Linked DNA regions of Homo sapiens: region 1 is linked to region 2. The links come from fine-mapping of genetic effects on gene expression. A gene starts in region 2. The other region holds a variant in brackets. All regions are shown on one strand. Distances are between the middles of the regions. Region 1 overlaps EPN1 (epsin 1). Region 2 holds the start of NLRP9 (NLR family pyrin domain containing 9).

Region 1 (2,915 bases), 32 kb before region 2:
CCCTTGCTGTCTCACCCCGTATCGCAAAAGCTCACGCATGTGTCTCTCCCGAGTCCCTGGAGGGTCCTGCCACCTACATCTCTCTCCTTGGCCTGCCGCCTGTGATGCTCCTGGGCCCCCTGCTCCAGCACCGCTCCCTTCCTTCTGTAATACAGACAACAGAGACAGGAGATGGCCTGGCCCCACTTCATTTCTGTTCCCTGGGAAATAAGCATCGCAAGTGATCCGTAGAATGGTAGACATCATCCACTTCCCAAGCATCTCTGGCTGAATGCTGTTCTCATCCACTTCCCAAGCATCTCTGGCTGAATGCTGTTCTACACATGCACGTGGGAGGCACCAGGGAGCCCAGAAGAAATGAAAAGCCTGGGCAGACTCGCAGTTCTGCCACACAGTGAATGTGCTACTCAAGCCACTCAGCCTGGGCTGCAGAGGTTGGAAGCCTCACTGGCCTGAGGTTTCTGAGTAAGCTCTGACCCAATCATTGACTATTAAACTTCAGAGGTCCATGGAGACCTCTTAGGAGTCTTTGAAGGAACTTAGCATAGATACCGATAGCTGCTGACTGCAGGGAGATGGGGAGATATGTTTTGTAAACCTGTCCAGGCAACTTTTTTGCCTACGGAAACACACAAAAACGAAAACAAACCAATGAAAAAAACCTCTCAGAACGATACAGAATCCAGAGCCACTACAACACATTTCATGAAGTGGCGTGAGCCTGTAATTCCAGCAGTTTGGGAGGCCGGGGCGAATGGATGACTTGAGGTCAGGAGTTCGAGACCAGCCTGGCCAACATGACAAAATCACCATCTCTACTAAAAATACAAAAATTAGTCATGCATAGTGGCATGCACCTGTAGTCCCAGCTACTCGGGATGCTGAGATGGGAGAATCGTTTGAGCCCGGGAGGTGGAGGTTGCAGTGAGCCGAGATCGCACCATTGCACTCCAGCATGGACAACAGAGCAAGACCCTTTCTTAGAAAAAAGAAAAGTATCCCCGAACATTATCAGAGTCAAGTTAATAAAGGCCAAAGGTAGAGAAAATCTTGAAAGTATCGAGAAAATGACATGTCAATCATAAGGTCAGGTTCTTCAACAGTCATACTGACATTGTGGCTGGAATATTTGTTGTTGTGGGATATATATATATATATATATTTAGAGTGTTGTGGGATATATATATATATTTAGAGACAAGGTCTTGCTCTATCACTAAAGCTGCAT[T/G]GCAGTGTGTGATCATAGCTCACCATGGGATTCTTGATTTTCAGTGAGTATAAAGTGTAAGACAAAATAAGTCTTAGTTCAGGTATGCTGGATGGGAAGCCAGAGGTCTGCATAGCAGTTACAAAGAAGGCCTTATTATCTGGAAGAAAAGGGACCATAGAATGTCCATTGGTTGGGGAACAACCCAGCTTTAGTTTTTCCAGATTCTCTGCATGTGCAGGTTTATGAGACTGGAGAACTTTGATTTCTTCTTCCTCCTCCTCCTCTCTTTTCTTCTTCCTCTTCCTCCTTTTTCTCCTCCTTTCTTCCTTTATTTTTCTTTCTTCCTTTCCTCCTCTTTCTTCTCCTTTTTCCTCCTCTTTTCTTCCTTTCTTCTCTTTTTCTTCTTCTTTTTTTTTTTTTTTTAAAAGACCGTGTTTCGCTCTGTCACCCAGGCTGGAATGCAGTGGCGTACTGTTTTAGAAAAGTGAAAGAGGGCCGGGCGTGGTGGCTCATGTCTGAAATCCTAGCACTTTGGGAGGCTGAGGCGGGTGGATCACCTGAGGTTGGGAGTTCGAGACCAGCCTGGCCGACATGGCAAAACCCTGTCTCTACTAAAAATACAAAAATTAGCCGGGCATGATGGCAGATGCCTGTAATCTCAGCTCCTCAGTAGGCTAAGGCGGGAGAATCGCTTGAACCCAGAGGCAGAGGCTGCAGTGAGCCAAGATTGCAGCATTGCAGGAAAGAGAGAAAAAGGAGGGAAGGGGAAGGAAAAGGAAAGAAAGAAAAGAGGGGAAGGGAAGGGAGAGATTTAAAAAACAATAGTAAAGAGAGATTTAAAAAACAATAGTAAAGAGAGATTAAAAAAAAAAAGTAAATGGGCCAGGTGCGATGGCTTGTGCCTGTAATCCCAGCAGTTTGAGAGGCTGAAGTGGGAGGATCACTTGAAGCCAGGAGTACCAGACCAGCCTGGGAAACATAGTGAGACCCCGTCTATACTAAAAAATATTTAAATGGGCTGAGCGCGGTGGCTCAGGCCTGTAATCCCAGCACTTTGGGAGGCCGAGGCAGGCGGATTACCTCAGGTCAGGAGTTTGAGACCAGCCTGACCAACATGGCAAAACCCCATCTCTACTAAAAATACCAAAACAAAAACTAGCAGGGCATGGTGGCGCATGCCTGAAATCCCAGCTACTCAGGTGGCTGAGACAGGAGAATCACTTGAACCCAGGAGACGGAGGCTGCAGTGAGCCGAGATTGTGCCACTGCACTCCAGCCTGGGCGAGCAACAGAGTGAGGCTGTCTCTCAAAAAAAAAAAAAAAGGAACGGTAGTGTGCACCTGTGGTCCCAGCTACACAGGAGGCTGAGGCAGGAGCATCACTTGAACCCAGGAGTTCAAGGCTGCAGTGAGCTATGATGGCACCACTGCCCTCCAGACTGAGCCAAAAAGCAGACCCTGACTCTAAAACAAAAGAAAGAACAAATAACAAATGAAAATAAATACCCAAAAACCAGTCAAATGTGAAACTGGTGTCAGGGGTATGTTCTCCATGTTGAGCCCCTTCTGTGGAATATGACAGTGTCTCTATTTCGGGTAAAGGAAAGACCAAAATAACTTTCCAAGATGAAAAGCTAAGAGTGCTGATCTCATCACAGACATAGCCAGCTCTTCAGTTCAGACCACCTGGAAACCCTCCCCATGTC
Region 2 (2,915 bases):
AGAATCGCTTGAACCTGGGAGGCAGAAGTTGCAGTGAACCGAGATCATGTCACTGCCCTCCAACCTGGGCAACAGAGCAAGACTCCGTCTCAAAAAAATAAAACAAAAACAAAAAAAAAAACAAAAAACTAACACAGCAAGCAACTCCAAACCAAATAAAATACCCTCAAGCATGTGGGGATACGAAATAAGGTCTCAAATTAGAATTACCAACACAAAGAAGAAACATGAACAAAACAGAAGTAAACGTAACAGAAGTTGATGGAACTCAAAAGTAAAGGGAGAAGATAACAATCATCAGAAACAAATGCTAATTACTAGATACCTAATAGGGAATATATTTAGTTTTTCCTAAGTATCCCCCGAGAGGAGGGTGTAGACCCCATCAATGAGTCCAGCAGAACTGGTTCGGAGTCAGATCTGTCACTTTTGGAAAAGTCATGTAACACATGGGAACACTGTTTTGTCCAGTTTTCTCACTTGTAAACCTTTCCTGGGTTGTGATAAGAATGAAAAGACATTATGCAGAAAGAATGCTTCCAGGACGTGAGGACAACCTGGCTGTGATGTCTGTCACCCCATTGGTCGCCCCAGGGCTAATTCGGCTGATGTGGCCAGCTGGGTGGGTGTCCACTTCCTCCCTCACTGCTCCATATGCGTCCGTCCTGAAAGTCTCCCCTGGGTCAAAGACGATGACAACCTTTGCCCATAGAGGAAGGTCCTTCCATCGCGGGCAGAAGAGAAGCTGTGCTCCCCTACTAGAACCTCCAAACAAGCTCGCAAGAATGCTTCCTGTAGTACCCGGGACATACGCTGTCTGATTGTCTTAAGATTCTACCTACTCCTTGGTACATGTCTGGTCAAAAAGGACAGGCAGTTAGGCATGGTGGCTCACTCCTGTAATCACAGCACTTTGGGATGCCTAGGCAGGTGGATCACTTGAGCCTGGGAGTTCAAGACCAGCCTGAGCAACATGGCAAGACCCTTTCTCTAAAAAAAAAAAAAAAAAAAAAAAAAAGATAGGCAACTACCATACTAGAATTCCATCTCAGTAGACCTGGCAATGCAGACACTAACTGGCCACTCATCTCCTATAACAACGACTCCACTTGGGGTGGAAAAATGGGAAGACACTCCATAGGTGAACAGTTGGTATCAGGACGCCATCTGTCCCCAGTTCATCGCTGGCCCACATATGAACAGCCCTGGCCTGCAACTCTTCCTACCTTCAACTCTCACCTTGACCCACACACATTCTCATCTGATGGAGGGGGTGGCCACTCATTTAACAATGCTATCACCTTGTTCCCAGGCTTCCCCCATGGGTCCTCGCCCCATCATCCAGCACTTACTTCTCATCTCTTCCTGAGCCTTTGTCCAGAGATCTTTCCTATTGATCTGTAGAAACAGGTTCAGTGTTACCTCCCATGCCTGCTTTCCTGGGTAATGTTTGTCCAGCAGCTTTGCTACATCTTCTTTGGAGGCCTTCTTCAGCTCAGCCCAGGGGATTGGCTTGAGTTCAAATTTCTCCAAAGGTTGTTTGAGGAGCTCCTTAAATTTCCAAAACTCTTCCTTTCTGAGCTCCTTCAGATACCACAACAAGCCAAAATCCGAAAAAAAAGATTCTGCCATATCGCCCCAGGATTGTGAACTGAGGTGTCTCCAGAGGGAAAAGAAAGATCCTCAAAAATAAAGAATAAATGATACCTGGAGAAGAATGACATGATTACAGAGTTAAGCTTCAGCAGCTGAAAGCAGCTCAAAATTATTGATATCATCATGCGTAGCTTGCACCAAACATCATCTAGGGAAGAAGCTTCATCTTTTTCCAAACAAATGCATGTGAATGGTAGAGTTGACTGCCACTTATGTGTCTTGTTTTTGTCTGACATAAATGATGCTTCCAGGAACAAGTGTTTTTGTGTAGTTTGGTGTATATAAGCACACATTTCTCTAGATTTATAAATTATAGGTCAAACAGCAAACACAGGTCACCATGTTTGCTACATAACACTCAACGGTTTTCCCTTGTGTATATAATTACTGACATTCCTACCAGCATTCTATGAGTTTGTTTGCTCTGTAGACCTTCCCATCCTTAGTATAGTCTAATCCAATTTTGATAATGAAAAAATGAACGGATATTAAAATTACAGATGATCACATTCAGGAAGATGAAAATAAAGGAAGAGGACATAAAAGCAAATTTAAATTTTTTTTTATCGTTTAGTGGTATATGCCTTCTTTTTTTTTTTTTTTTTTGAGACAGAGTCTCGCTCTGATGCCCAGGCTGGAGTGCAGTAGCGCAATCTCGGCTCACTGCAAGCTCTGCCTCCCGGGTTCACGTCATTCTCCTGCCTCAGCCTCCTGAGTAGCTGGGACTACAGGTGCCTGCCACCACACCCGGCTAATTTTTTTGTATTTTTAGTAGAGATGGGGTTTTACTGTGTTCGCCAGGATGGTCTCGATCTCCTGACCTCGTGATCCACCCGCCTCGGCCTCCCAAAGTGCTGGGATTACAGGCATGAGCCACCGTGCCCGGCCGGTATATGCCTTCTTATTACAGTATATAAGGAAAAAGTTAGATTTACTATAGGTTAGCATCTGCAGACAACTCAGACAGAAACAGAGCAGTGAACGTTCCCAGTATTATAAACCCTTCAGATAATCATTGCAATTCAACAAAAGACAGGAAATGAAGTAGAAATATATGGTAGACAAAATAAGACAGGTGGCAAAAATAATACCAAATATATATAGATATGTATTTTGAGATAGAGTTTCACTCTTGTTGCCCAGACTAGAATGCAATGGTATGACCTCAGCTCACTGCAACCTCTGCCTCCCAGGTTCAAATGATTCTCCTGCCTCGTCCTCCCAAGTAGCTGGGATTACAGGCACCTGCCACCATGCCC

The links.
Region 1: its variant is fine-mapped to the expression of NLRP9 in tibial artery (GTEx, PIP above 0.99). The same link has a PIP of 0.9 or more in aorta and coronary artery.

Annotation. Positions count from the first base shown.
Region 1 is chr19:55,704,667-55,707,581 of GRCh38, forward strand. EPN1 (epsin 1) reads left to right here. Exons shown (of 11, transcript NM_001130072.2): 11 at 1-2,915. It also overlaps the pseudogene VN1R106P. Among named protein-coding and RNA genes, the nearest start is that of EPN1, 31 kb to the left of the region's middle. The variant T/G (reference allele first, on the strand shown) is at 1,229.
Region 2 is chr19:55,736,743-55,739,657 of GRCh38, forward strand. It overlaps NLRP9 (NLR family pyrin domain containing 9), which reads right to left and starts at 1,660. Exons shown (of 9, transcript NM_176820.4): 1 at 1,353-1,660. The coding sequence starts at 1,632. It also overlaps the pseudogene RN7SKP109.